2 separate regions of the Homo sapiens genome follow, and region 1 is linked to region 2. Evidence: fine-mapped expression QTL. A gene starts in region 2. The other region holds a variant in brackets. All regions are shown on one strand. Distances are between the middles of the regions. Region 1 overlaps LOC124902957 (a long non-coding RNA gene). Region 2 holds the start of CAND1 (cullin associated and neddylation dissociated 1).

What was found. PIP is the estimated chance that this variant, and not a neighbour inherited with it, causes the effect.
Region 1: its variant is fine-mapped to the expression of CAND1 in fetal neocortex (Walker 2019, PIP 0.95).

The regions. Positions count from the first base shown.
Region 1 is chr12:67,348,022-67,364,047 of GRCh38, forward strand. LOC124902957 (a long non-coding RNA gene) reads left to right here. Exons shown (of 2, transcript XR_007063354.1): 2 at 1,189-4,659. It also overlaps the pseudogene MRPL40P1. Among named protein-coding and RNA genes, the nearest start is that of LINC02420, 87 kb to the right of the region's middle. The variant C/CTT (reference allele first, on the strand shown) is at 7,955.
Region 2 is chr12:67,262,809-67,278,834 of GRCh38, forward strand. CAND1 (cullin associated and neddylation dissociated 1) reads left to right here and starts at 6,550. Exons shown (of 15, transcript NM_018448.5): 1 at 6,550-6,977. The coding sequence starts at 6,910. It also overlaps the pseudogene GGTA2P. RefSeq lists enhancers at 5,686-5,985, 6,126-6,385, 6,665-7,316, 15,171-15,672, 15,673-16,026.

The DNA of each region.
Region 1 (16,026 bases), 85 kb after region 2:
CCTTTATACAACCAGATCTCATGAGAACTCACTCTCATGAGAACAGCAAGAGGGAAATCCACCCCCATGATCCAATCGCCTCCCACCAGGCCCCCCATCAAACACTGGGGATTACAATTTGACTCAAGGTTTGGGTGGGGACACAAACCCAAACCATTTCAACTTCATATTTTAGGATGTTAGAAGGGGAGCCTTCACAGAGTGTTTTAGTTTCCTATTGCTATGGTAACAAATTACCACAAAGTTACTGGCTTAGGAAAATACAAATTAATTATCTTCTGGTTCTGGAGGTCAGATATCCAAAATAAGTCTTGCAGAGTGTATTAATTTTCTAGGGCGGCCATGAAGCAAGTACAAACTGGGTGGCTTAAACATCAGAAATTTGTCGTCTCACAGTTCTGGAGGCTAAAATCTGAGATCAAGGTGTCAGCAGGATTGGTGTGAATAATAATCTGTTTCATGCCTTTCCACTAGTTTCTCATGGTTTGCTGGCAATCTTTGGCATACCTTAGTTTGTAGTGCCTCACCACAATCTCTGCTTTCACCTTCATGTGATGTTCTTCCTGTGTTCATGTCTGTGTCCAATTTTCACTTCTTTATCAGGACACTGGTCATATTAAATTAGGTCCTGCCCTAATGACCTCATTTTAACTTGGTTATCTCTATTAAAGACCCTATCTCCGGGTAAGATCACATTCTGAGATACTGGGGGTTAGGACTCCCAAATATTTATTTTTTTGGAGGGGACACAATTCAATTCATAACATACGGGGTTAAAATCAAAGTGATTTCAAGACTGCATTCCTTCAGGATACTCTAGGGGGGAATCTGTTCTTTGACCTTGCCACCTCTAGAGTCCACATTCCTGGGCTCATGGCCCCTCCCAGCAATGGCACCACTCCCACCTCTCCTTCCTTTGGCTCATCTTCTCTAACTCTCACTCTCTTGCCTCCCTCATATAAGAACCTTTGTTATTATACCTGGAGAATCAAAGATAATCTCCCACCTCAAGATCCTTAACTTAGTCACATCTGCAAAGACTCTTTTACCACATAAGGCCACATATTCGCAGGTTCTGGGGGTTGTAGGTTAGGGATTAGGGGATCAGGACATCTTTGAGGGATCATTATTCTGCCCACCTCAGAGGGTTTTGAGCAGAAGAGTGATATAATCTGCATTGTATTTTAGAAGAATCTCTGTACCTGCTGGGTGAAAGGGAAGAATTTGAAGCAGGAGACCCAATAGAAGGCTGTAGCAATGGTTCTGGTGGAAGAAGATGGTGCCCTGGACAAGAGTGGTTGGGGTGGAAGTGCAGAGAAGTTGTCAGATTCTGAATGTGTTGTGAAGATTGACTTGCCCATGGACTGCATGAGACAGGTGAGATAATGACAACTCCTTACTGTCTCTTTTTCAGAATAACAGTAACTCATATTTGTTTACCCCCTTACAATTTTCGACATGGTTTATACATTTATTTTCTCATTAGAATTCCCTACAACCTTTTTATATATATCATTATTTTACATGTATTTTACATAGACAAGACTGGAAGATCAGAGAGGTGATTTCTTCTAGTGATTTGATTTTTAGTTGTTTTGAGCCAAGTTTTTTTTTTTTTGAAATTGTCTTGAAATATGCTTGATGGGTTTTAAGCACAGAAATTACTAGGTAAGTTTATACTGGTGATGAAGGGAAACTGGTGTCCTCTGATGTCACCTATGTTTTATAAATAAATTCACAAATTCCAAAGCCAGAGATAGTTCCATATTTAGTTTGGTGAGGATTAAATGAGTTTATATATACAAAGAGTTTAGAACATTGTCTGGTACATGTAAGCCCTATATAATAATAATCATGACAATTATTATTTACTATTAGAGTCAGTACTTCCAAAAGATATTTGAAATGGCTATTTTAAAAAGGCAAAACAAAACAAAGAAAAAAATACAGGAAAAATTTGCATTTTGAGTTCCTAGAATAAATCAGTTGCTGCAGTTAAATGTTTTAGTTCTGAGCATCTAGGCAGCTATGTCAAAAATGAAAACACTGTTATGTAATATAGTTCTTGTTGATTTGTAATTGAAATCAAATTAGGTCATCTAAAGAAATGAACTTTTTATGAAATTCTAATCATAATTAAATGTGCAGATCCTTGTACAAAGGGGCTTTGAAACAATATTTTGGACTTTCTTAAAAGTCTTAAAGAAGGCCTTTCAGGCATGACGTTAAATCTTAATGCAAAGAAGTATTGTATGCATGTGCTAAACCCACATATTCTAGGTGTTTATTTTTTATAAGTGTCCATTTTCCCTCCTGTTGCCAGAGTGACTTTTAAAAATGCAAACACGATCATGTCACTCCCCTGCTTAAAATTCTTCCCTGACTCTTCATTGCCCACAGTGGTGGTCTCAAGCTTATTTTTAGTCATGGAACCATTTCTTCAAATTAGAACTTACACAGAAATTCAATATGTAAATAAAATATAGGCTGAGTTGCTCTGGATGAAGTACAGGTGAGGACCTGGCATCTGCATTTCCAGCTTCATCTACCTCTCTGCTCGTGCACCTTGTTCCATCCTCCAACCATCAGGATATAATCAGAACCCTTCAGTGTGGTCTAAACAACTTCCATTCAACCCATAAGTTGCCATGCTGGCTGCACTTAGTTTGAGCTTAGATGAGAATCTAACTTACTAACCAAACTGGTACAATTTTGAAAATGAGTTGTTAAAAAATTAACATTATATGAGTTTTGAAATATTTACTTATTGTTCAACAAACTGGTTTTATGTTATTGTTAAGCATATAAAACAATTCCATTAAAACTGTTTTAAAAGGTCTCTCTAAAAATATTAAAGCAAAAATAAAAAACAAAGATCAAAAATAAAAACAAAAAATAAAAAATTATTAAAGCAGATATATTGATTGAATATTTCAAAAAACACAAGTGTAATAATTACTCTTCAAACATAGTACTGTATTTTACTTAGTTTCTTAGTTTGGTCTGCCTTTAAGCCTATGACATTGTTTCTCTTCCTCCTCCCCTTCTTTTCTTTCTTTATTCTTTGAGTAAATAATGCTTTTTTCCCTAATTTGGTTCCAAAATTTTAATAAAATTGCCTCTAATCTTCAAAATATAATTTTATGATATATAAATGGAAAATGTTTGATATATTTACTTCTAGATGAAAATTCTATTTTTAATGAGAATATATTCTCTCTGTCAGTGGTGAGGTAATCAGTAAGCTCACAACAAATGCGGCTAAATAGAAGATATTCCCAATTCTCTTTTAAAATATATTAAAATGGGTAAACATTTTAGCCTAGATATTTTTCTTTCAATCTGGAATGCCTTTCTTTGACATGCACTTCTATAAGACAAATCTTGTAGATCAATATTTCTCAGGGCCAGGCTGCCAACTAGTCCTAGTGCTAGGCTGTGAGCTGGCATGCACTATGTGCCTACCCAGTGGCTTCTGGAGCAGGTTTGAGGCACCCACCAGCGAGCTTCAGTGTTGTCCTCCTACGAACTCATTCCTGTGAGAGCAGAACCTCTTCGAGAGCAGAAGGTGAATTCTAAAAAAGACCAAGCAGGAAAGGGCTGCTTGAAAAATAAGATATGAAAACTGGAAAAGGCTAGCCAAGAGCTCATTCTTGTTGCAGATTTTATTAGCCTTGTGAGGTTCTTGGATAAAGCAAGCCAGTGGCCTCAGGTGGAGCTCTCCTTGGAGGAGAGTGAGTGGAGAGCTCTGCTTCTGATGAGTGGTCTCTGTACAAGCAGCGAGAGCACACTATGGACAGGGACACCATCAAGGCTGTGCTGGGGACCCAGCAGGAAGCTCTGCAGGAGCTACCACTCAAGTCCCCTGAGTTCCCCACTGAGACCATCAAGTGGGACTGCAGCATGTTCCCCTTTGAATGGGAAGGTCCAGATTATACACTATGGGTCTCTAACTACCAGCCCCCCAAAGGCAGGTACAATGACATCACCAAGATGTACACACAGGTAGAGCTCAAGAGAGAGTTGCAGCAGCCAACCTTGGAACATGAGGCCCCGAGAGTCAGAATGACCAGGGTTCCAGTCGGCTTTCCACAGAATCAGGCATACTGATAATAAAGACATGTTTAATCAAAAAAGAAAAAAAAATAAAAGGAAGAAAAACGTTGTCTTTATGACTGTTTGGAGCATTTCACCAAATTTAGGTTTTGTGAAAATGTAGACTTCTCAACTCTATTCCATTCTATTCTGGAACAGAATGCCAATTTATCTGAATAAACGTAGGAGCTCCATCAAAAGACTCTTCAAGTTGAAATATTCCAAAGTGCAATTATAGAATTTCAAAATTAAATCCTGTATCCTGTTTAAATTTGTATTGTTAACATTTGTTCACATCCTTTTTTTTTGTATAGACAAATTTCATTTGCTCTTCTGTAAGTTTTGTTTTCAATAACTTTAATTCTCTAAAAAGTTTTGCAAGCTGAAGGTTTTTGTTCTTCCACTTGTTGAATGCCTTGATTTAAAATTTCAATACTTGTTAATAAAATGTGACCAAAATTTAGAAAACTTGTTTACAAGAGTTGTACGCCACTTGGGTTGACTTGAAAGTAATTTATTTGAAGAATCAAACATTTCAATTAAAGCTTCATGATATGGTTTGGATTTCTTTTCCTGCCCAAATCTCATGTTGAATTGGAGGAGGGGACTGGTGGGAGGTCACTGGATCATGGGGGCAGGTTTCCTTCTTGCTGTTCTCCTGGTAGTGAGTGAGTTCTCATGAGATCTGATCGTTTAAAAGCATGTGGCACCTCCCTCTTCTTTTTCTTTCCTGATTCATCATGGTAAGATGTGCTTGCTTTCCCTTAGTCATCTGCCGTGATTGTAAGTTTCCTGAGGCCTTCTAGCCTCATGCTTCCTGTATAGCCTGTGGAACTGTGAGTCAATTAAACCTCTTTTCTTCATAAATTACCCAGTATCAGGTATAGCAGTGTGAGAACAGACTAATAGACTTCAATTAAAGATTTATTCTTGATAGGTCCAAAACTTTGGCTGATGGGGAAATGGGGCTGTCTAGAACGCCAGATACATGTTACAAGGGGAGGGAGGAAAGTAAGTGAGAGCATGTCTTATTCTTCTTCTGAACTGGTGAGGCAGTCATCTTAGCTGTCCATAGTGCTATGGACCACTGGAAAACAGCCCCTTTCTTAATGTCTTGGCCATCAGGAATGGTCATCCATCTGGCAAACATTTGCAGTTTGCCTACCACGTGTTAGATACAGCCTGGGGTGCTGGGGTTGCAGAGTCAAACTCTTAATCTTTTTTCAGAATGAACCTATGGCAGGTGAGAGGGGAAAACAAACCATTTTACCAGCATATGATGGGCACTGTGATGGAGTTATAAATAGGGTCTTGTAGGAGCATAAAAGCAAGGGGCTGCAGACTGCTTGGATGAGACAAGCGAAGGCAGCTCCTGAGCTGAAGTTTGAAAACAAGTAGGCATTACTCAGACTGTCAAAAGGCAGGCATTGGGCAAAAAAGCAAGAGCATATATGTAGTGTAGTGACTGAGGGTGCCTAGTGTATTTAGGGAAACCTTCAAGTAGCTCTGTATGCTGGAAGTTGAGTTTGTGTTGCAAGTGTGGAAGGTGAGAAATTTGCCTAAAATCAACTGATCAGAGGCTGGTGAACACTACAGGGAAAGGATTGGTGACAATTTAGATACATTTCTGAAACTTTTGAATTTCATAAAAGATGACCTCTCAGTGGCATTTTTTTTTTTTCAAGATGGAGTCTAGCTCTGTGGAGTGCAGTGGCGCGATCTTGGCTCACTGCAACCTCCACCTCCCAGGTTCAAGAGATTCTCCTGCCTCAGCTTCCCAAGTAGCTGGAATTACAGGCACCTGCCACCATGCCCAGCTAATTTTTGTATCTTTAGAAGAGGCGGCATTTCACTGTCTTGGCCAGGCTGGTCTCAAACTTCTGACCTTGTGATCCACCCACCTCGGCCTCCCAAAGTGCTGGGATTACAAGCTTGAGCCACTGTGCCCGGCTGACAATCAATTTTATACCGACAACTCTGTTTACTTTTGTATAATCTTACTGATAGGTTAGAACATGGCTATCTCATTGTGATGACAGATTGCAGGAGACAGTTGCTCAAATGATAGTATCGGTCTATCTTGGTCAAGTGTCTTAGCTATATGAATTTATCATTTAACACTAACAATACAAATGTTCAGCTGGTAAATAGCTCAAAGATCGACAGGAAGGTGTCTAAAACTACAGGAGTGTCCAAGCAAGCAAGGTTTCACAGTGAGGGAGGAAGTGGAATGAAAAGGGGGAGATGGCAGACTTGAAAAGAGCCCAAGAGTTTGGTTGTGGGCCAGTGAAGCATTTCAGTTTTCCGGATAGTTATGAAAACTGAAACTATGACTCCAAATGTGGGTTCAAAGGGAGGGTGGGATGCTGAAATATTGTTTTTGCTTTGTGTAGGCAGAGTTCCTGTCTCAAGAAGAGGTTTGGCAGTAACAAAGTTTAGCTATTCTGCTGGCCATCACTCCGGAAAGTGTTCCCACGAAGTGGCTGACTTAAAAAGTAAGCTTGACTAAGTATCATATCACATGAGCAGCACTGGAAAGAGGCAGAGCTGAGGGAAAGAGGGAAGCTTCTGTGTAGACGTCGACTTTACTCTTTGACCACCATACCTTGCCTTTCAGTTTGTGGGTAGCTTAGGAAACCGAAGTCAGACAACATAATTGGCTTTTGGGGGATAAGAATTGTGTCTTTCGGATGTTTCTCATAGTGCTTTACAGGATATACCCTCAAAAGAAGCTGAAAAAATTTTAAAAAGAAAGTCTGACACATTTCAATGCTGTGTTCAAGCCTTCTGTTTTCCAAAAGAGGCCATCAGGTATCACAGCAAATCACTTTTGTGGATTATAAAAGGAAGGTGACTTGCAGCTCTAAAATCTTAAATTCTCTGCTCCATGTTCTGTGTTTTATAAATAAGCATAATTGGTATTCAGAAAAGAAATCTGCAATCTCAGCCTACTTCAGGATGTTGGTGAGTTGACTAAGCTGTAAAACTCCTTAAAAGTCAGGATGTTTGGGCAGAGGAGGGCAAAATGTCTAGACAGAACAGAAGGTTTAAACTGCCCCTGGTGAAATTTAGTGGGAATTGACTTTAGCAGCTCTTCCTCCTGGGTGAATAGCTTGTGATTTGCGACTGTGAAGTGGTTGGACTGAAATGCTTTCTACTCTGAAGTTGTATGACTTTTTTTTTTCACATAGTGAATAGAGATATTGATGGAAAAGACATAACTATCAAGATAAAAGTGTGTTTTAAAATAATACTTTTAAGTATTCGACTGTATTCCTTTGTCCTTATGCAAACTAAACCTTGAGAAACAAAGACTGGTAAGATCTTGTGGAGAGAAAGTCAAATATTCCAATTCATTTGGCTTTGTTTGTGCCATATGTGTAAATAACTCCAACAAGATAGTCTGAGAAATAAGAGTTCATCTGGGAACATTCTTAGTCTTGTTATTAATGTTTTAAAATCCTTAGAACTCTTTTGCCAAATTCTGAGACTTAAAATGCAAAGATAAGGATGATTATTTTCAGAGCCAAGTGTGGAAATTATTCTTCTAGTATCTCTCTGTGTTCATGCGGTGCTATTGACTCTGGCAAAATGGGATCTCATATCTCTTTACTAATGAGAACTCAAATCTTCCCTGGGGACTGGCAACTTTAAAGGCTCATTACTCATATGTTTGATGTTATCTTTTGCTGGCAAATAACTGACGCTAGAGTCTTGAACATTTGCCTTTTAGGTTTGCTGTTTGCCCAACATTATGCTAATTCATCTGAAATGGAACTGTCAGCGGCTGCAGAATGTCTTTACCTTTCTTGAGAATTGAAGAAATTTATCTTCACTGGAAGCCTTAATACTAAGCACC[C/CTT]TTTTTTTTTTTTTTTTTTTTTTTTGGCGTTCTTGGTCTTTTCTTCCAGGAGGTGGCGATAGAACATCATAAATATCAAGGTACAAAATGCATGCGTTTTTGCCCCTCAAAGCCTCCCATTGTGGAGCTTATGACCAGCGTGAGTTACTATTCAAGATTTGAGCCTTGGGTGAGCTCTTTTATTGTAATATTTGACTTCCAAGTCATATCTGAAGAGAGAGCAGAAGTACTTTCAACTCCACTGATCACTTGTTTTTCCACTTAGCTTCTCATTTTCTGAGTTTGTGCTGTTGAGTGCAGGAAATGTTAAATAGGTTGGCCTTCAGTTGAAAGATACTGAGATTTACTAGCGCTGTTGTAGATTGGGCTTTTGAACCTAGAATTATTGCTTTTGGTGTAAACCAACATGACTGCCATGCTGTTTCCTAGACATATGAGGATACTACAGGCTCTATTAGAGACTAATTTTTAAAATAGCCCCTGATATTCCTCAACTCTTTATATTTAGCATTTTGTACACTATTCTCCAAGTTGGCATTTGGCAGCTTTTCCTCCTCTTAAGGCAAAGTTAAAAAAAAAAAAAAAAAAAAAAAGGGACATTTGCCAAGGAACAATTTCACCACAGGAGCTTGGCTGGGAAACGGGAATTTGGTATCTTGCTTGTGCACCTGCCAGTTGATTTCTGATTTCTGTATTAGGGGAGAGAGAAAGTTATTCTGAGGTTTATCATCAACAGCTGCCTAATCTTAATAGGTTTAGCTATCTTTTAGAGTTATCTAATTTGAAAATATCTGCTGTTTGATTACCTTTAATATTTTCCTTTTTAAAAAATTATACTTTAAGTTCTGGGGTACATGTGCACAACGTGCTGGTTTGTTACATAGGTTTACATGTGCCATGTTGGTTTGTTGCACCCATAAACTCATCATTTACATTAGGTATTTCTCTTAATGCTATCCCTCCCCTGGGCCCCTGAATATTTTCTTAAAACAAAAAGTTCCTGGTTTAGCAAGCAAAACTGGGATAGGTATGCAAAAGAGAATCCAATGGAGAGTTGAGCACAAGCAGCTAGAAGAAGAAAATGAATATACAGAGAAGGGAAGTTTGTAAAACTAAGGGTGGGAACTTTCTATAGGGCAGCACAGAATAGTTTTTTATTCACAGAAACTTTAACTATATTGCAGTACTTCGCAATTGAAAAGTGGAAAAGATAAATGCTTCATTCTAGTGCAGTAGTTTTGTAAGGGTTCTTTTTCTAATATGAAGTTTTTTTTTAACATTAATGTCTTCTAAAGTACATCTAGGTGGTCAATAAGTGCTTATTTGATTCATTCCTAATACAAATATTTTTGAGCTCCTACTGTTCACTGGATCGAAATCCTAATAAGTTTGAGTATGCATTTGCTATCTCAAGACGTTTGCTTTCTAATAGGTGGAGATAGACAGTAAGCAATTATTGGTAAGTAATGCTTTCTAAAACATGTAGGTTTTTCAGATTTTGGTAATCACAGCATGAAAGAAAGTCATCAAGGCCAGTTCTATGCAAGGCTGCAAAGCTAGGAAAGTATCAAAACAGCAGATCTCTGGCTTTAAATTCTAGCTTATGATTCATTAACAGTGTGCCCGTGAGCAAATTGCTTAACCTCTCTCAACTTCAGTTTTTTCATGTAAAATGGTAATAATAGTACTTATTGGTGAGTCTGTTATGGGGATTTAATGAAATAATGTAAGAAAAGCATTCAGCATGGCACTCACTTGAGACTCAATAAGTGGTAGCTACTGTGATCATTTCTGCTTGTCTTGCTTCAGCTGGTTTCCTTCCACTGCCAAGGGCTTGGTTCCTTGTGCTTGCTTGTTGCTGCCATTCTAGAGGAACACTCCTCCTGCCTCTTCAACAATACATGCACGCTGTGATGCTTCCTTTAGGTCTGCCGTCTCCAGGGGAATGGGGTTCTATTTCTAGAACTTACTTCAGGCTCCTGATCTCTGCCTGATCCAGTTAGATAACTGAATAGACTAGCCTGTGCCAAAGAGGTCAGCGCTAACCTTCACCCTTTGTTATTTTTGAGACAGAGTCTCGCTCTGTTGCCTAGGCTGGAGTGCAATGGCACGATCTTGGCTCACTGCAAGCTCTGCCTCCAGGGTTCAGGTCATTCTTCTGCCTCAGCTTCCCAAGTAGCTGGGACTACAGGTGCTCGCCACCACGCCTGGCTAATTTTTGTATTTTTAGTAAGAAAGGGGTTTCACCGTGTTAGCCAGGATGGTCTTGATCTCCTGACCTTGTGATCAGCCCGCCTCGGCCTCCCAAAGTGCTGGGATTACAGGCATGAGCCACCGTGCCCGGCCACCTTCATCTTTTACCTTGTTGAAAGAGGGCTGCTGAGACAGCCTGTCAGTGTGCACCATCCTGCATTCTGGCTTTTCTTTCTGAGGAGCGCTGCCTGTGGTCCTTTAACAGTTGCATTTCTGCTTCCAATGGCCGGACAGCCCAGGTATTCATCAAAAAGTGCTTATGAAGGGACTCTTCATTTCTAAATGTTGGGTGGACAGTGGTGGACAAAACAGACACTGGTGTCGCATTGAGCTTGGAGAAAAATGGAGACATAGACATTACACAGACAGACACACAGGGAAAAATATTTACAAATTTGGTAAGTACCACAAAGGAGGTGGTATGAGGAAGAACTAGGAGTCTGATTTAGATCAAGAAAGTGTATTAATTTTCTAGGGCTGCTGTAACAAAGTGCCACAAGCTGGGTGACTTTAACATCAGAAATTTATTGTCTCACAGCTGTGAAGAGTAGACATCTGAGATCAAGATTTTGGCAGGATTAGTTCCTTCTGAGGTCTGTGAGGAAGAATCTGTTCTATGCCTCCCTCCCAGCATCTGGGGGTTTGCTGGCAGCCTCTGGCGTTCCGTGGTTTTTGCTGCATCACCCCAACCTCTGCTTTCATCTTCACATTGTCTTCTCCTTGTGTGCATGTCTGACTTCAAATTTCCTCTTTTTATAAGGACTCCAGTCCTGCTGGACTAGAGGCCCACACTACTTCAGGAAGACCTCATCTAATTAGATCTGCAACAACCCTATTACCAAACAAGTTTACATTCTGAAGTAATGGGGATTAGGACTTTTAACACATGAATTTTTGTGGTTATGCAGTTCAACCCCCTACAGTCAACAGGGAAGAGCTCTCCAAGGAAGAAAAGAAAGGCATTTTAGTGGTAGAAGTGTCTCTTGGGGCTCTACAGTCATTCGGTATAAACAGCTGTTGCTCAGCCCTGTGTGAAGTTGGCCTTGTCACGGTAGCTTAGGCTGGGAATGGAGACAGAAAAACTCACATGAATTGTGCTTGTATATCTTGTTACTCATATGATTCTACATTTGAAAGTGGAAATTCAGTCTCCCCCGCAAGAGATGGGGCAGGAGGCTTTTTTTACTTCTTGTTCTTTGACATTAATGTGATCACTCTAGTTTAGGCTTTTGGATCATAGGGCAGGGAATGAAAATTTGGATAGTGTGACAGATTTATGCAATCATCTGTCGTGTCAGAGTTGCATGGAAATTTTAGATACTGAAAAAGTATCATTTGTGTTTTCATCCATCCATCCATCCATCTATTGCTATATGTGGGCACTGTGGTAGCTAATGGCAATGCAATCAGGTGATAGAAAAAATATTTAACCACTCATGATGTCAGGGCCAAAACCAATAACATCAGTAAACAATTGGTATGGCCACCCCAGGGCCAATCCACTAGCTACCAGCCATGTGTACAATACTTAATAACCAGCAATTGTCCTAGGTCTCATGAAGCTGGCAGCTGGCTAATAGAAATAAGATGCATACACATGTGTAATTTAAAGGTTTTTTTTCCCTAGAGTATGGGGTCTCATTTTGTTACCCAGGGGTGCAATGGTATAATCATGGCTTACTGAAATCTCAAATTTCTGGGCTCAAACAGTCCTCTCAGCTCAGCCTCCTGAGGAGCCAAGACTACAGGTGTGCACCACCATGCCTTGCTATTTTTCAAAATTTTTTTTATAGCGATGGGATTTTACTATGTTGCCCAGGCTGGTCTTGAACTTCTGGCCTCAAGTGATCCTCCAGTATTGGCCTCTGAAGTGTTGAGATTACAGGCATGAGCCACTGCACCTGGCCAATTTAAAGTTTTTTAATAGCTATGTTAAAATGTAAGAAGAGACCACTGAAATTAATTTAACAATATATTTTATTTATCCCAATATATCTGTCATTTCAACATGCAATGAATATAAAAATTATTGATGCAATATACCACATTCTTTTTTAATACTAAGTCTTCAAAATCTGGTATGTATTCTAATGCATTTACAGCACATCTTAATGGACAAACCACATTTCCAGGGCTCAATATTCACATGTGGCTGGTGGCTACCATATTGGACAGCACAGGACTAGAGGATAAATGGAGATCAGAGATCTAGCTCTCACTTTCTTAGAAAGAGAAGAGACCTACATAGAATAAATGTCCTTTGAGGGGCATTTGAAAGAGATGTAGTAGATGGATCATGGAGTGAGGGGAGTATATTAAAATATTAAATGAATGTATTTTTCATTTCCTTTTCCAACTTGAAATGTTTTCTTGCAGCCTTTCTGTCAGTGTGAGTCCCAGAAAAGTGGTGAGTATAAACAATGATTTGAGGAGAAGGAAATAATTGGAGTCAAGGCCCTGACAAACAAGATAAAGAAATAAAACAAGATTCTTCTAATATGAAGGAGAAAAGGATAGATAGAAGGGAGGGAGTGAAAGAAGGAGGTGTCAGTGTCCTTGCTTTCTCCTATTCTCTTAGGGTTGAACCATGGTAAGAGGTGAGGTCTAGAAACACGTGTGTAAGCATGAGGGAATGTAATGAAATTGGTAGTAGTGGCCCACTTCCATAAACATATTAGAGGGTACCAGAATACACAACCCCAATATATGCCTCTTTGGCATATGAGTTATTTTGAACTAAAGCCATTGAGAACCGGCAGTTGTAAGGAGAACTCTAAAAACAAGGCACAAGTTTTCTTTTTGTAAAGGAAAAGTTACATTTATAAAGGAAGTTTCCATTTGTAAAAGGTGTCTCCCTCTATCATAGCAGAAAGAGTAGGATTCTTAACAACTCTTATCAGTGGAGAAGGTACATACTTAAATCTTTATAACAAACCTTACTAAAAAACCCTGGGTTACTATACTTTTCCTGGTTACCTTCCCATAACTTGACCACCCAGAAGCTCAAATTTCTTTCCTTTGTTTAGCCTAAGATGTTATACAAGCCCAAGTTCTAACCATCCCTTGGGGTTATTTATCACTGGGTGCTCCCATGTGTACATGCATGTGTTAAACTTATGTTTGTTTTTCTCTTTTTAATATTTTGCAAGACTAATTTATATGGCCCCAGCCAGAAAACCTAAGGTGGGTAAAGAAAAAAGGTTTTCTTCTTCTTTCCTCTACAAGAGCCTGGGGAAGAATGCAAGCGTCTGCATTTAAAATGGCACCATATCTCAAACAGTGAAAGGGCAATGGGGTAGAATGGGATAGAGTGGGGTTCAGAGAGAGAGAGAGAGAAACAGAGATAACAGGAAAGAGAGATGAGCCTGAGGCTCTGGGCAACCACAACCTGCAGGATATCACAGAGCCCCTGAGTGCCCCAGTGAGAGGGTTTGGAGACACTCAGAGGTTGGAGTACCATCAGGGGCTGGGGATTAGAAGAAATAAATGAAGAATTTGAGGACCTGTTAAATGGAAGCAAATGACTGGAATCATAGCCTGTAATAGCGGATGTCAGCTCAGTGTTCCTGAAGGCCAGTGTGATATTGTGATATAGAATATATATTTGGCTTTCACCCCCAGTTCCTGGCACAGAGCTCCTAAAATCCTGGTAATTTCCTGAATGATAGGTGTAATAATAGAAACATCTTTTGTTATAATATTTGGTCTTAGTCCCAGGTCCCTGACACCAAGCTTTGAAGACCCTTGCAATCCCCACAGTGATGACTGTCTTTTGCATGGTAATGAGATGTTTTGTGGCTGGGGCCCCTAGAAAGCTGGGGACTGCTCACCATAAAGACCAAGGCATAATGAGAGGGCTGGAACTTTCAGCCCCACCCCCTGACTTTTGAAGAGGGGAGAGGGGCTGGAGATTAAGTCAATCACCAATGGTCAATGATTTAATCAAGCATGCCCACATAATGAAATTTTCATAAAAACCCTAAATGACAGTGTTTGGAGAGCATTTAGGTTGATGAACACAGTGACGTGCTGGAAGGGTGGTGCACCCAGAGAGAACATGGAAGTTCCGCACTCCTTCCCACATACCTTGCCTAATGCAGTTCTTCCATGCGACTGTTCTTGAGTTGTATCGTTTAGAATAAGCCTGTGAATGTAAGCAGTGTTTTCCTGAGTTCTGTGAGTTTTGCTAGGAGCTGTGAAAAAAAGTTCTCTGAAAAAGGAATTTGGAGGAAAGAGACTTTTTTTTCAGCAAATAGTTTGCAAACTGGCAGAAGCAGCCTTTGGAGTAAAAGGAAGATACCTTCCAGAGAGCAAAGAGAGTGTTTGAGCTTTATAGCAAAATTCCGGCCCAGGTTCCCAATTAGGTCTGTTCATACGAATGAAGGATTGAAACACGCTTAGTTCTGATTGGTTGGCACAGCTAAGTTCCGATTGGTCAATACAGCTGAGCCCTGATTGGTTGACACAGCTGATATTTGATTGGTTGGCTTCCAAGCCCCACACTGGAAGTCTGTCAGATGTTTCTTTCAAACAGCCAGTAGGGGTGTATTGGGCCACAGTTTATCTTGGTACCAAAAACAGGAACTAGTTTGGCTTGATTTTAGAAAGGGAGGTCCTATGGTACTTTTACAATATCTTTCTGAGAACACGGAGTACCTGACTGCTCCCTCACGCTGCCATGCTGCCTGGTTCTGTTTTAACTTTGAGCACCTAAAAATGACCATTTGTCAAAATGGGAACCCCTGATTTATAGCCAGTTGGTCAGAAGCATGGGAGGTCTGAACTTCGGATTGGCATCTAAAATGAGGGTAGCCTTGTCGTGGGGCTGGGCCCTTAACCTATGGAATCTGTTGCTAGCTCCAGGTACATAGTGTCATAATTGAATTGTAGGACACCTAGTTGGTATCCTGAGAGTTAGAGAATTGGTTAGTGTGAGACCTTCCTCCCCTCACCAATGTTTGGTGTTCTGTGGATAGAAACAGATCACAGTAGCTAGAAGACACACAAGAGACCTGAATACATTGTAGAGGGCCAGGCAAAACCATTGCAGGGGAGGAAAAATTGCCTCCTTCTACCTTTCTAGGTTCTTGCTGGTGTAGAAATTAAATTGACATAGGATTAACAGAAGAAAACAATTTTAATTATGTGCATGGGAGTCCCACAAAAGTATGATACCTAAAGAAGTTGTCAGATGATTAAGGTTTATGTGTCACCTGGAACTACAGAAAAGAATAGAGATTTGGGGTTGGGGGACAAGAGTGGAGGCAAATTACAGGAGGCTGGGAGGAAAGGCCAAATTAAGAGGAGATGGCCATGAAAAGCAGGTTAAACAAAAGTAAGATTTGTTATGCCTTCACCATTGATTGAGTCTCGAGATTTAGTTGTCTTTTTCTTTCTGGTGCAGAGAGGGAAACACCATTACAAATGGAAGTTTTCTTTATTGATGTAAATTTCTCTTAAAAAGGGTAACTTTTTAGACATTCTGTGTCTGCAGTTTCTCAGAATAACCAGCTCAAAATAATCAATATGCCAAAAAGGCACATTTTAGGGTGGCATATTCTGATCTCCCGCAGTCATATTTTGGTGTGGTGTGTCCTGAACCCATCATTTGTTCTTCAACATCAGCAAAAACCTGGAGAACTCAACCATTGCTGAGGCTTATTTGCAATGGTCAGCATCCAGTCTGGAAAACAGAACCCATGCCAGGCAGTAGAGGGCATTTATTATGGAAACTAGTTGAAGAGGCATTGGAAAAGTGAAAAGGGGGAAAAGGTGAGGCAACCTCGAGAGTAACAAAAGCAAGAAGACTTCATCACTCC
Region 2 (16,026 bases):
AACGTGTCATCACATCCAATTACAATTAACAATAAAAACCCTACATAATTAAAAAATTCAAAAATGCCTCAAATAGCCCTACAAAATATACACCAAAAAATTAAATCTATGTGCGACCCTACATTGTCACTAAATCAATAGGGGACATTCTAATTCAAGTCAGGACCATGTTAGAGACAAAAACTACTTATAACATTGGCCTGGCCTACAGGGGTAGATATATCCCTGTGTTATAAAACTTACTACTATTATACCCTCTATGTAAAACTGTAAGACAGACTTTCCCCAAAACTTTCTAAACCTCAAACTATAACACTCCAATAAATATTGTCTATAGGCCCAAATACTCATAAATATTTCCAAATCCAAATAAATCAATTCCATTCTAATACCCCCAAACTATGCCCCTTCTCAACAAAAAAATAGCCAAAACAATTATGGCAGCCATTTTCCATACAAATAAAATAAAATTTGACAATAAAAATTACAACCAAACAGCTTAACTTCAAACTGCATTTTAAAACTTTTTTTCCTTTCCAACTTTCTCCCCAGCCTCAAAATATAACTTGAAAATAAACTACAAATGTATTTTACAACCTCAAAATGTTTTCTTTCCTCCCTTCTCCCAATCTCAAAATATAACTTTAGACAAACTATATATCTGCTTCCTTTTGCCTTAAAATACAGCCTCAAAATGTACTATAAATCGCCACTCCCCTTCTTTCCCATACTATACTCCCATGCGTTATGCATATTTATTTACTTACATCCTTGTTAAGTACATGCCACACTGACATATCTAGTCATATATTTCCATTAAAACGTCAAAGGCCAAATCCTAACACAAACCAGACACCTCCAAAATTCTCTCCCCAGTCAAGGCTGAAACTCAATCCCAGCTAAAAACTGACTACAGGCCAGATGCAAAGGCTCACACCTGTTATCCCAGCACTTCGTGAGGCCGAGGTGGGAGGACTGCTTGAGCCCAGAAATTTGAGACTAGTCTGGGCAACATGGTGAAACCCCATCTCCACCAAAAAAAAATACAAAAAGTTAGCTGTGCTGGATGGTGCATGCCTGTGGTCCTAGCTACTAGGGAGGCTGAGGTAGGAGAGGATCACCTGAGCCTGGGAGGTCAAGACTGCATTGAGCCAAGATCACACCACTGCACTCCAGCCTGGGAGACAGAGTGAGACCCCATCTCCAAGAAAAAACAAAAATTGACCATAAAATTGACTGCAATTAATTTGTAACCTAATTAAAGCCCAAAATGACACCAGGGCCTTCACCAAATAAAACAACAATTCACAATAAGTCATTAAAACAAACCGTGCCACCTCATACCCACTTCCTCTCCTACATTCCAAACCCCTCTCTCCTTAAAAATCTCTATCTTCCCTCCACAAAGGGAAGAGTGGAAATTTTTTAAAATTTCACCCATTCTTCCCCTTGCTAACACAAGTAGTAAAGTCTTGCTCTCTTTCTTTCACATGTCATTATTATTTTGACTCCTTTCTATAAACAAATGGCCGAACCCTTTTGCTGGTTACACGTCTAGTTGTTACACTTCCATAGTGCAGATGAAAAATGAGAGGTTACTTGATTTCTTCAGTTTACTCTTTGATGTCAGCCCTCCAAGTTGGGGTATGAGTGGCACAGGAACCCTGAGTTCCAGAATAGCTAAGTGGTGGGACTAGCTGATGATCCATTGTCCTCTGATGAAGCCACATTCTGGAAATGGAACTCCTTGAAAACCTCTTCGATCCACTGCAGGCATTTGCCTTCTCTGACAGCATCCATATCTCCTCACCAAGGATCTGAAGACATAAGTTGCAGAATCTGGTAGACCGAATACAACTTGGGCAAAACAAGAAGCATCTTCCATTCAAGTCCCTGCTGTTTGTCAGTCATGGGGTCAACCAAGCTGGAAATCACCCATACTGCCTCCCATTCAGTGCCTGGATCCATGATGTATTTAAGCACCAACCTCATGGCATGTGTTCCTGCAAGGTGGCACTGCCCCACAGCGATCAGCCCCTCTCTTGCACTCTCTCTTTGCTATTTCATGGCACTCATGTTGAGGCTGTTTTCACTTCACATTGAGCACCTTGGTTCATTCAGGTTCCCTGGGACTCTGACCATGCACCATCATAATATCTACTGGGAATCTCCACCAAACTTTCACACAGAAACCAAATGACATCCTGATGAGAAAAGAATGGACTACAGATGGTCTGAAACAATCTGTTCTTGAAGTATTTTGAGGATTGCCAAGGCAAACGGTGTCCTTACTGAAAGTTCCCCTGCTGCAAATAAAAACTCCATGTTCTTTAGATCCATCGGAAACAGGAAAACATTGGAATCAAGGGTATAACCCCCTACAACCATATCTCGCTGCCAACACTTCCCTTACCACCTGATTTTCTCCAGGATGTTATCTGACACATGTAGAGTTTTGTTTGTTTGTTTTTAGATGGAATTTCACTCTTGCTGCCCAGGCTGGAGTACAATGGTACAATCTGGCTCAATGCAACCTCTGCCTCCCAGGTTCAAGTGATTCTCCCGCCTCAGCCTCCTGAGTAGGTGGGATTACAGGTGTGCGCCACCATGCCCGGCTAATTTTTTGTATTTTTAGTAGAGACGGGATTTCACCATGTTGGCCAAGCTGGTCTCGAACTCCTGACCTCAGGTGATCCACTCCCTTGGCCTCCCAAAGTACTGGGATTACAGGCATAAGCCGCCGTGCCTGGCCTGTTTCTGGCTTTATCTTTGCCTATGACAAGTTCTTTCTGGTTCAGCTGATAGTATTTCCCCCAAATTCAGAATACATAAGAAATCACTGGGAATTTACACCTGATTACCATAGATTCATTCTCTCATATTACAATGCTCAAAGTTACAAGGAGAGATAGTATGTGATTGCAATGTTGGTGTTTCATTAATATTTTCTTAAAGTTAAAATTGTTTTCTGAGGAAGTAGCCAGAATAATAATTCTCTCAAATTCAAAAAACTGTTGGCACAATTTGAAGTCAGTCATCATTTCTAACCAACGTATATTCTTTTTGCTGCCAAGATAGCTTGACAATTTTAATATCTGCATGATGACCTATAATGATAATCCCAGCAGCATTCTGGTGATAAGATCTTAGAGGGTATGTTGAGGAAGAAATACTTGTTTAGGTGGCTTTATCATGCCACTTGGCTTCGAGGTCATTTTTCCTGTCCTGGAGGATTCCCTTAAAGCACTCCTGGGTGATGTTGAGAAAGTGAATGGGTGTTCCACCAAAAATGGCTGCGTGGTAATAAAAATCCCCCTGGCCAAATGGAATGTATGCCACCGACTCCTTCTGCCTCTCCTAAGTATTCTCCTCAGGATGTGTCCAGTACCACCAGGCCTATAGCTGAGCCACGGACTGGCCCAGGGTCTCCACTCCAAAATTGTCTTGGAACACTTGGTCCACATCCATGCAGAAGAGGAAGTCAACTTCCTGTTGGATGTGGGCCAACATGTGCTCCCTGTTGGTCTTCATGCCCACGATGCTGATGACCTGCTACCTCTTCTCGGGCTTGATCTCAAACACTCTGAAGAAACGCAGAGGACCCAGCTCTATCAACAGCATCCTGGATTATCGGCCATGATGTAAAACATGACTTTGTGGCTTACCATGAAGTACCTATCAGCAGATGCTATGAACTCCTTCAAGTAATACTCTACATGTCTTCCGACAGCAAAAACCGTCAACCCACAGTAATTTTCTGTTTGGCATAATAATTTTCTAGGATGGTTCTGTTCTAAGTGCCTTCCCACACAACCGGCTCATTCCAGCTGGTCACCGTCAGCACCTCTGGGCGATCGTATGGATTAAACCAGTTCCATAGCCGAAGCTCTTTTTTTGTCATCTTCTTTTCTTTTTTCTTTCTCTTTTTCTTTGTCTATGTCTTCTTCTTCCTCTGCTTGAGGATTGTGGGTCCCATTGTTGAAGCAGCTTGGAAACCACCGGCCCTTCTGCCCGCCGCCGTCAACAACTTCTGGGTGTTTTAAGTGATACATCCACAAGAGAGAGCCTTCTTGGGTGTTGATACATTTCCAAACCACAACAATCGCAGTTGAGACAACCAGCACTGGAGGAATTACGTTTCCTTTGACATTCATTATTTTCTCCTTATCATCTGCCCAGCTAATTTTTGTATTTTTAGTAGAGAAAGGGTTTCACCATATTTGGCTGGGCCGGGCGTGGTGGCTCATGCCTGTAGTCCCAGCACTTTGGGAGGCTGAGGCCAGTGGATCACCTGAGGTTAGGAGTTATTTAACTCTTAAAACAACCTGAGGTAATATCCTGATCATCATTTACCCACGAAGAAACTGAAGTTGAGAAAGATGAAAATGAATTGCCTATGACACCAAGTAAGTGGCTGTAAACATGATTTATATTTAAGGAATCTGACTCCAAATATTATAGTTCAGCTGGAAATTCAAAAGTGAAAGAATTTACACACAGAAAAAGACAAACCATGATTTGCTTTCTGAGTGGACACAGGCTAAAAGAAAGTATTATTGATAATACCAAATGACTGAGGCCTTGAGGTCCACACATACAAAAAAAGACCTGCTTCTTTGTGTGTGTGTGTGTGTGTGTGTGTTTTACATTAAATATGGTGGAAAGGCTATTCAGAGCAAAAGGCAATTAATTGTGGCTGAAGCACTAAGGACAGTTTGATGAAAGATATATTAATCATGGCAGATTGGTAAAATGAAATATGGCATTACTGGGGAGAAAAAATATCATATATTACGTATATATTATTATTATCATTTTAAGACGTTGTCTCACTCTGTCGCCCAGGCTGGAGTGCAGTGGCACGATCTCGGCTCACTGCAACCTCCGCCTCCTGGGTTCAAGCAATTTTTCTACGTCAGCCTCCCGAGTAGCTGTGACTACAGGCGCGCCACCATGCCCAGCTAATTTTTGTATTTTTAGTAGAGATGGGGTTTCACCATATTGGCCAGGCTGGTCTCGAACTCCTGATGCCCTGATCTGCCCGCCTCGGCCTCCCAAAGTGGTGGGGTTACAGGCATGAGCCACCGCACCCGGCCTTTATATTACATACATTCAAGTAGAAGGATACATGAGAGCAGATCAGAGGTATGTGTGAAATTTAAACACATATTATGAGGCTAAACCAAGTTTCATCTGTTTTATTAACTCCTATTGCCTGACTTTGAAGTACTCAGTAATAGTTGATGAATACAGAAAACAATGGTAAAGGTCAGGTAGATTTGATCGGATTTGAGTTATGTGTTAGTAGAGAGCTATTTAAAGGTTTGTTGTTGTTTTTAACAGGAGTATCAAGTGAGATTGATTTTTCATCTCTTCACCAGGCTCTCTGTTCTTTTAGAAAGGCCTGTCAGCTAGCTCCATCCCTAACACTTTCAGGGATGTTGACCCCTAGCTGGCAAAACTTGTGTTTAAAATCCCAAATATTAAGCAGATGAAAAACTTGGATACTAAATACTTTCATAACTCATCTCCACGAATTTGTACGTCTGAGGGAGCAATACACAGCTGCAGGTCCATCAAGGCCACAAAAGCTAACTACAGAGATAGTCTTTTAGCTATTTTGAAATCAGTAGGGCCTGACTACAGCCATCTGTCGCATACCCATTACTCTTACTAAGGTCCTGCTGGCGTCAGAGAGGTGGTTCTACGATGCACGGTAGGAGTGTGTCTGGCCAGAGAAGTGGGGAGGCTCAGCTGCCTTGGGAGGTGCAAGTAGTAGCGCTAGGAAGCTGCTGCTAGGCCTCTGGCAAGAACACCAACTGATCCGCAATGCGCCTGGCCAAACTGCAGCAGCCTGCTCTGCAAATACTGCATAACAGAAAAAGCCTGTATTGGAGAATATAAGAATCCGCGGCAGAAACGGAGTGCGCGACGATTCTAAGGTTTTTACCCAGCACGGCTCCCCCATCAGACTGCAAATCCCAGCATTCACTCCTTCCACGGGAGCCAATGAGGAAGCTACTAGTTCCCGCAGCCAATCACATTCTGAGCCAGTGTATCACCCGACTGAATTCTGGGATTTGTGGTTTTTACGTGGCAACATTACACCACGGTGGCTACGGCAATGCAGGCCACGCGTCTGATCCCAAACGACACCTCCCTGTTATAAATTCTTATGTTGGTTCCGCAAGCTAACTCCTTAACTGTCGTTACTCCCAGGCTTCCTCCTTCTCAAAGCTCGTAATCTTTTTCTCTTAATGTCATTAAACAATCAAGTTATTTTCAGATTAAGGCCCACTTGCTCCACTCGTCCCCTGTCCCTTAACCGTCGCTTTAGAGTCTCGCGAGAACAGCCCCTTTTTTTTGTGTTGTCATGCCTCCAAAAGGCGGGTCACATGAAAACTGACACAGGCTTCAGCCAACCGAATTGTTTTTTAACTCTCTTCTCCACAGCGTGCGTGGGGAGGCCTCCGTGAACTCTGACCTTAGCTTTCCGTAGCGCCCGCGTCTGCCGCCCCCGCCCCCGGAGCGAAGGAGGCGGGCTTTGGCCTTTTGCCCTAGGGAGCGAGTGCGGAGCGAGTGGGAGCGAGACGGCCCTGAGTGGAAGTGTCTGGCTCCCCGTAGAGGCCCTTCTGTACGCCCCGCCGCCCATGAGCTCGTTCTCACGCGAACAGCGCCGTCGTTAGGCTGGCTCTGTAGCCTCGGCTTACCCCGGGACAGGCCCACGCCTCGCCAGGGAGGGGGCAGCCCGTCGAGGCGCCTCCCTAGTCAGCGTCGGCGTCGCGCTGCGACCCTGGAAGCGGGAGCCGCCGCGAGCGAGAGGAGGAGCTCCAGTGGCGGCGGCGGCGGCGGCAGCGGCAGCGGGCAGCAGCTCCAGCAGCGCCAGCAGGCGGGATCGAGGCCGTCAACATGGCGAGCGCCTCGTACCACATTTCCAATTTGCTGGAAAAAATGACATCCAGCGACAAGGACTTTAGGTGAGGCCGAGATCCGACCCTCACCCCACCTCGGGGTTCTCGCAGCCGCGGCCCTGGCCGTCACGCAGGCCTTGCCCCACCCCTTCGGCCGTAGCCGGTAGCTTCTCTGCCCCGAAGTCTCCAGCCCACCGGTCCGCTGGCCTCCCGATCCCTGCGGAGCCCCTTTCCTCTCCCCTCTTGCAACCCCCTCCCCCCATTCTTTCTCCTAGGCAGTTGCCCGCCGCGGTCTCTAGGCCCCGTTTGCTTGTCTCAGCGCCCCCACATCCTTCCCTGCCCCACCAGGAGGCGATTCTTGCGTCTCAGGTAGCGCGAAGGGGCTAAACCACCCACCATTGTGGAGAAGGGAGTTGCTCTAGGCCGGGAGACCGGGCGCCGGGCCTATTCGCTTGCCATCCTGCGGCGCTAGGCCGCCTTGCTCGCTGGGGCCCAAGCTGCTGCCCACTCGGGGACCCGGCAGCCTCCTCTCTGCCCGCAGGTGCGCGTGGGCCTTGCTGCATTCAGGTGGAATGATGAACTTTTGCGCTCTTGGCTGATACATAGTTCTTTTGTGGATTATTAATTTTCGTGAAGGTGGGAAGAAGGGGGAGGGGAGCCAGGATGGAGGAAACTTCGCTCATAGGGTTTTCCCGCCAGCATCACTGTCAGTTCCTCTTGTCAGGTAAAACCAACTTAGGAACTCGGGGTTTCAGTCTCATGTCCTCATATCCAAAATCACTGCCAAAGGGGTGGATTGCTGGATCTTAATCATAGCAGACGGATCTTCAAAAGGAAGAGATGTTTAATACGGACCTGGTGAATATGAAGCTTTATTACAGCAGTTCTGTTCAGGAGATCGGTACTGTTGGTTCCAAAGTGTTGTAATATGCATAGTGAAGATTTGTTATATTTTTACAGGTTATCTTTGTTTTTATTTTTCCTTGCACGCTTCGGTGATTGTTGCATTCTTTCCCGCCTCCCATCTCTTCACAAATAAGTTCTCAATCTAAAAAAAAAAAAAAAAAGAAAAAAAAATCGCTTATTTCCTTATACCTGTTTTGTTCTCTAATGCTTAGTGGTTGTAATTTGGGTGCATTTTAAAGGAAATAACAAATAGTCTTCAACTAAAATTGTGACTAAAGAGCTTGTTTGTTTTGTATGAACAATATGTTTTAACACTTGAAAATGTGTCCAAACCGTGTGGACTGGGAAGAACTTTTCGGATTTGTGAAAGGAGAACCATGAAAAAGTAGTAATTGTGTTCCTGATTAAATTGATATACTGGCTTATTAAAATAATCAATGACCACAAAACCACGTATTACTTTAAAAAATATTTCTACCTAGGCAGCTCTTAAATGTATTTAAAACTTAAAAATCATTTCGCTAATGGTAAAAATTTTAGTATTGTAACTTTTTGGAGGTGACATGTTTGTTTTGTGTGTTTTAGATTTGTGTAGTTCTAGGGCCAAAATTAAGATTCTTGGGGGAAATAAAGGTTTTGTGTTGTTTTACGGATTGGAATGCCGTTTGATTTTTGGGGCTTTGCTTGCTTCCAATTCAAGTAATGGATGAGGTGTGTGGCGTGATTTCCTCCCCATTGCTGTCAGTTTGGCTCATCCTGTAAAGGTGGTAAATTTCATTCTGATTGTGGTCAATTTCAGTCTGAAGGTAGCACTTTATAATAATACAATTTTGTTCAACTAGTCATTCTCCTGTATAAGTTTAGAAAGGCTAAAGAAATTATGTGGTGATACCATACATGTGATTATTGACTGAAGCTTGCTTTCTTAAATTTCCTGTGAAAGAAAGATAACATGTACATACCTAGTTGTTTTTTTCTTAAATAAATTACATGAAAGAAATAGTGCTCTGATACTAAATGACAGTCACTGCTGAATTTGGTAAAGATTATGTATGAATTTTGGTTGTACTGAATCAAAACAATTCCTGGAGGATTAGTGTAATATTGATATATTCCTAATAGTTGGTGAATGCTAAACAAGGTATATTTAGGAGCAGTACGTGATTTCCAGTAATTTGGCATCATTAAGATATTTTTATCAACTGTCTTCTAAAAAACATTTTTATAATGCGCTGTAGCCATCTAGTTAATAAACAAGTCTTTGGAACTAAAGCACTTTATATGTTTAGTTTAAACAGACATTTAATAATTAATTAGTGAGCGTTTGGAGTCAAGAATTTTGAAATTTTTTCTGCATATTTTTAGTATAGGCATTTATTTTAATTTGCTCTTTTTTAAAAAAATGATGCCTTGTTCTCATTAGAAGTTTATTTATTTTGGCTTAAATACCAAGATTTGTGGCTACATATTTTAAAAATACCTAGCACTAGAAGGATCTTGAGGGCAAGGTTAACATTATGGAATGACCAACATGTGCAAAGCACTCTGCCTGTACTAAGGACGAGAGAAGAAACAAATGCTGCCAAAATGAAGAGCAAATTTTATTATCCTCATGGTAGAATCCAAAGAGAATTTGACCTAGTCACAAGATCTGGGTTCTAATCATGTGTGATTCTTTGTTATGAACTGTAAGATCTTATGCAAGCTATTTAATTTGAGATTACATTTTCACTTCTGAGAGGCATGGACATGACTAATTACAAAAGGTTGTTATAGGCATAAAATTTCAGGTCTATTTATATAATTACATAGTTCATTAATACAGAGAAGGTAAAGAAATGAATGCAGGCTTAAAAATTTGGAAATTTCTGCATTTTAAAAGAATCTTTTTGTAGGACTATTAAGGCTCAATTTATTGAAAAATTGTAATATTTCTTTTGTGTTTTAGTATTGTGCATTATTTAAAAATGAGATATTAAGACTTAGGAGAAATGGGGAAGCATTAGGATGAGAAATGCTGAGATTAGGAACTCTGCCATATGCAGGGTTTTTGTTGTTGTTGTTGTTTTGGTTTTTTTTGTTTGTTTTTTTGAGATGGAGTCTTTTCTGTCGCCAGGCTGTAGTGCAGGGGCGCCATCTCAGCTCACTTCAACCTCCGCCTCCCAGGTTCAAGCAACTCCCTTGCCTCAGCCTCCCAAGTAGCTGGGATTACAGGCACACACCACCACGCCTGGCTAATTTTTTGTATTTTAGTCAAGACGGGGTTTCACCATGTTCGCCAGCATGGTCTCGATCTTCTAACCTCGTGATCCACCCGCCTGGGCCTCCCAGAGTGCTGGGATTACAGGCCAGCACCGCATCCACCCATGCAGGGTTTTTTGTTTGTTTGTTTTAAAAAAAGGAGACTAGGAGCTCTTTTATTAAAAAAAGGAGGAGGCATTTGTGTGTCTTAATTACTAGGATAGTGCCTGTTACTTACTAGCCTCGGTTTAGTGAAAAGTTATTAATGAATGCCAATTCAAATAAAACCTTCAGAAGAAAAATGAAGAAACATTCCTTGGGACAGTACCTTAGAACAGTGCTTCTCATCACTTCCTCCCTAAAAGAAACACTTCTGGAGTGTACTGAGACTTTTTGCCAGAAAACATTTGTACCAGTGTATATAGTTATTTTAAGGACCTCTAGGGATGCATGTTCCATAAAGGAATAAAGAGTAAACCTTATAATGTAGCCAATAGATAGGGGATTCGGTTGATACCAGAGTGAAAGCTTTAATGTGGATGAACCATGTGACACTCCATTTGTGAATATTAATATTGAATATTTGGTAGGTTGAGGTAACTAAGTTCTTTTCTTTTTTTTTTTTTTTTTTAGAGATAGGGTCTCGCTCTGTCACCCACGCTGGAGTGCAGTGGCACCACCTCAACTCACTGCAGCTTCAACCTCCTGGGCTCAAGCGATTTTCTTCCCACCTCAGCCCCCAGAGTAGCTGGGACTACAGGTGCGCACCACCACACTCAGCTAATTTTTTTTATAGAGATGGGTATCACCATGTTTCCCAGGCTGGTCTCAAACTCTTGATTTCCGGCAATCTGCCCACCTTGGCCTCCCAAAGTGCTGGGATTACAGGCTTGAGCCACTGTGCCCAGCCACTTCTTTTATTTTCATATTCTTCAACCACCAGTTGATTTAAAATATTCCAAGGAATCAAGAGCTAAAGAAAATATCATTATCTTTCTATATATAATAGTTAATATTAATGCTTACTGTGAGCTTGATTTTTGTTTATCCTTACAACTTTAGTAAAAGAGGATAATAATAATCTCGTTTACAGTTGAAGAAACTGAGATTTGGAGAGATTAAGTACTTGTTTAAGGTCAGTTAGATAGTAGGTCTGGGACTTATAGGATCTCTTTACCCCCAGAACATGAACTCTTGACCACCCAGCTATGTCACTTCTCCAGGGTTTAGACTAGTGGATGTTAAGATTCAGGCCTTAAATTTCATTTCCCTCTAAAATTAGGCTTATAGAATATTTCATGCTAGAAGATGCTTTTAATAATTCCTGAGGACTACAAAAAGTTTAAGATCTGGTGCTTACTTTCCCTAAATCTACATGCTTGTTGAATAGTTAAGACACTATTGTAAAAAGATGAATAACCCAGGGCAATATGTAATTGTCAGGCATTAAGTGGCAGAGAATATTAAAGCAAGAAGATTCATGTCCATGGAGAGATTTGAGCCAGGTGTTGAAAATGAAACTCTAGATAGAAAGTGAAAATGTAAAGCACACGATACAAAACTTCACTGGGGAAGAGGGAATAGATAACCTGACTGTAGCTGGATGGATATTGTCCACAGAACTCCTTAAGAATAGGGACCTTGTCTTACTAAACGGAATCGTTCTCTTTGTCTGGCTCTGGGCCATGTGGGTTCTCAGTAGGTGCTTGTTTAAGTAGAATTGGGTTTTATTTCCATTATATAGGGATTTTAGGAACCTCCAGAAAACCATTGTAAAATCAACTAAACTGTTTGTTTAAATACCACTTGATAGAATCTTCTTAAAATAATTCACCCCATTTTGGAATGCAAGTTTTTCCCAATTTGATAAAGGTTTATATTACCAGATTTATTTATTTAAGTGTTTTGGATATTGGACGGTATTTTCTTTTGGAAACTGTTTAAAATGCTTGTAAAAAAAACTCAAGCCTTTTAAGGAATCAGGTTTTCAGAGCTGGAAGGAACCTTAGAGATCCTATCATATAGCTGAAAGTACAGTGTGGGTGGGCATTTACAATAACATAACAGGAAATAGTGAAATTATCTTAAGTACTTGTGCTTGGAGAAAAGCAGGTTTAATCAGAAGAAATAGATTTGCAGAGATTAAGAAGGTGATTTCTGGGCACTTTTAAAAATACTTAGAAGGTTGATGGCAGTAACTTTCTTGATTTTACTTTGATGTTTTTTTCTTGATATATACTATGCTAACTGGTTATCAGCAGTGATTAGGGCTCACCACTGAGAAAGAGGAGGAAGGGACCTCACAGAGAAAACTGGGAAGAAAGATTAGTAAAAATTAGATTTCTTTACATGAACAATATTAAGACTATTCCAATTTAGGTCTTGTGTGGTGGCTCACGACTGTAATTCCAGCACTTTGGGAGGCCAAGGCAGGCAGATCATCTGAGGTCAGGAGTTCATGACCAGCCTGGACAACATGGTGAAACCCCATCTCTACTAAAAATACAAAAATTAGCCGGGCATGGTGGTGCATACCTGTAATCCCAGCTACTCGCGAGGCTGAGGCAGCAGAATTGCTTGAACCTGCGAGGCAGAGGTTGCGTGAGCAGAGATTGCACCACTGCACTGTGGCCTGGGTGACAGAGGGAGACTGTCTCAAAAAGAAAAAAAAAAAAACTGTTCCAACTTAATTCATAGCACTCTAAGGAATAACTGAGGAAAAGTGAAATAGCAGTGGTGTATGTGCAGGATCTCTGAAAGGTAATTGGTGTACTGAGTGATAAAATTGACCATATCAACTAGATTTCTGGTTGGAAGCAAGAGTAAAATTGTGTTTATGTATGATGGGAGAGGCTGTGGTGAGAGTTATTGTGAGTGCAAGGTATCTATCGATCTAGTGCATACCTAGTGTAAGTTCCAGACTGTGTTACTCATCACTGTGTTTGCAGAGTAGAGTTCCTTATGTTGGTGCCCTCAAAATACTTGTTGAATAAAGGAATGAGATGGCACTGCCTACAGGTCATATCAACCTGGGAATTCCATTGAAGTCTGAAACGTAAACATTTATCTTTTTCTTTTCCCGTCTTAATGCCTTCTTTATCCTTATTTTGGCCTGTTAAATTACCATCCACTGAAAGTCACAAGCAGAAAATCTTTGATATCACCCTTCTCCCGTCTGTCTTCTTTAGTCTCCTGATGAGTATTTCTCAAATTAATCTTGCTGTCTCAGGCCTCTTCCTAACCCAGTTTGTTCCCTCTGGCCATTAGAATTTTCTTCCTATATACTGCAGCTGATCATTGCCTCCCTCACTAATTTCCATTGACTACAAGATAAACTCCAGATTTCTTAGCTGTTGCCCATCTGAATTCGTAGAGACTGCTCTCCTAAAATCCCCAACAGTCTCCCTAGTCTCCTAATATAACTCATTTAGTGGATATTTTCTTTGCTCATCTATTTGGTATATTTTTTTAAATCACTTTTTCCTTCTTGGAATTCTCTTATATGGGCATCCTGACACGAGTTGGGTTTTTGTCCGTAATAGTCAGGGAAAACACACACTTTAGGGTATCAGAGGATGTTAGAAGGAACCTATTCATTTGGGTAATTTGGGAAAGAGTCTAAGGAAGTGAAGCCTTGCTTTAGGTTGAGTGTTGTCAGAAAGTGAGGTCAATTCTATGATTCGGCCTCTTAATAAATTTTACAGGGAGGGCTGACCTAAGCAGGGGGAAAGCTGTAGTTGGTAAAGAAGTATCAGTCACTCATTTAACTGGAGAGGGGAATGTTTGGTATTTTGTATTGCTCAGGGACCTTGTCCGAAATGGATGTTCTGTGAGATTGTTTATGTCCAAGAAAACAATATGCCTTAGCTGTTAAGCATCAGATCGGTTAGTAATAACACTGAGGTTTAGTTATGAGTCTCAGATAAGTTTCTGGAATGTGGAGGCTGCTGTTTTTTTCTTTATCAGTGCCCACTTTTGGCCAAGGGTAGACAAAGTTGGGCTGCAGGACATTAATTTTTGATTTTCACATCTTCACTATGGCGGAGATTTTGTTAAGATCAGAGGAATATCCATTCCATGTAGTTTGCAGTTTAACCAAAGTTAATCCTTTCTTCTGTTGTAAGATGAGCAGTTTATTCATCTGATGTGACAATGGCTGCAGGGTAACATTAAGACTCTGGACAAGGATATGTTAGCTGACTGTATTACCCAGTCTTGTGGTTTTCCTTTTACTTCTTTCCTGCTAGCTCATCCTTACCATCCCTATATCTAATCCATTTTGAAGAACTATTAATTTTAGTTTGTAAAATTCAAACCAACTAGTTCTCATTATTTGTAGTATGTTTTGTAACATTATCACAAACACTGAGTTAGCAAGTACTGAACCATTGCTTCTGAGGGAATTATGGAATTAGTTTCTCTGAGTCCTGAGTCACATTATTTTAATCAGTTGATGAGTTTGTAACCTCGTTTTATGAGTGTTTCTTTTAAAGTTGTCTTAATATATATTGCTGATTTATTAACATTGAATTCACAGCCAATAAAGAAGCTTATCTAACACATATGTTTTTTTCAGAAGGCACATTATAGCCTTCTTGCACTTAGGAATGCTAGACAGCATTTCAGCACTGTGCTTGGAGGCCATATTAAACAACAAGAGCGCCAAGAAAAAGCACAAACATGTGAAAAACATGGGCTGAAATAGGCCAAGAAGAAGATGCTTGTTTACAACATGAGAGCTGGAGCTAGAAGGCAGAGTGTTGCTTTGTGCCACCACAGCTGGGAATGTATGTGTTGGATTACTCAAAATTTTCACCACTCGACACTCATCCAAATGACTGTGAAATAGGAAGCATTAATTTTGCTTTACAAATAAATGTTAATGAGTAGGTGAATTTGCAAATATGGAACCTGGGAATAATGAGAATCAACTGTATGTCATTTTTTTTTCCATCTTCATTGATTGCCATAACCTAAGTCAGGCCATCATAATTTCTAACTTAGTCATTCTCCTAACTAGTCTCCATTCAGTATGGCCAAATGAAGATTTGTTCTCTCCAAAGTATGGTCCACAGTATAGCTGGAGTAATGTTTCTGAAATGTAAATCTGATCATTGCATTTATTCCCCATCTGTAACCCAGTTGTTTTTCAGTAGCTTCCCACTCTCTTAGAATAAAGGCTAAAATCCTGATATGGTCTACAAATCCTTTAAATTCCTGGCCCTTGCTTACCTGGCACTAACTTCCTCCTGCTTCACCGTAATTTTGCCTACTCTTTATTTATTTTTGAGACAGAGTGTCACTCTTTTGCTCAGGCTGGGGTGCAGTGACGTGATCTTGACTCACTGCAACCTCCACTGCCCGGCTTCAAGCGACTGCCGCCCAGGTTCAAGCATTTCCCCTGCCTCAGCCTCCCAAATAGGTGGGATTACAGGCATGTACTACCATGCCTGGCTAATTTTGTATTTTTGGTAGAGACGGGGTTTCACCATGTTGTCCAGGCTGGTTTGGAACTCCTGACCTCCACCTGCCTAGGTCTCCCAAAGTGCTGGGATTACAGGTGTGAGCCACCATGCCCAGCTCCTACTCTTCAGATCAGTCTTTCCTGACACAACCCGCAGTTCAGTCTAGGTCATGTTACTTTGTTTATATGATAGTGCTTTCTTGTTTTGGGATGAATCTCACTCTGTCACCTAGGCTGTAGTGCAGTGGCTCAATCTCGGCTCACTGCAACCTCTGTGTCCCAGGTTCAAGCGATTCTCCTGCCTTAGCCTCCCAAGTAGGTGAGATTACAGGTGTACACCACCACACCCAGCTAATTTTTGTAATTTTAGTAGAGACAGGGTTTCACCATGTTGGCCAGGCTGGTGTCGAACTCCTGACCTCAGGAGATCTGCCTGCCTTGGCCTCCCAAAGTGCTGGGATTACAGGCGTGAGCCACTGGCACCTGGCCCCATAGTGTTTTCTT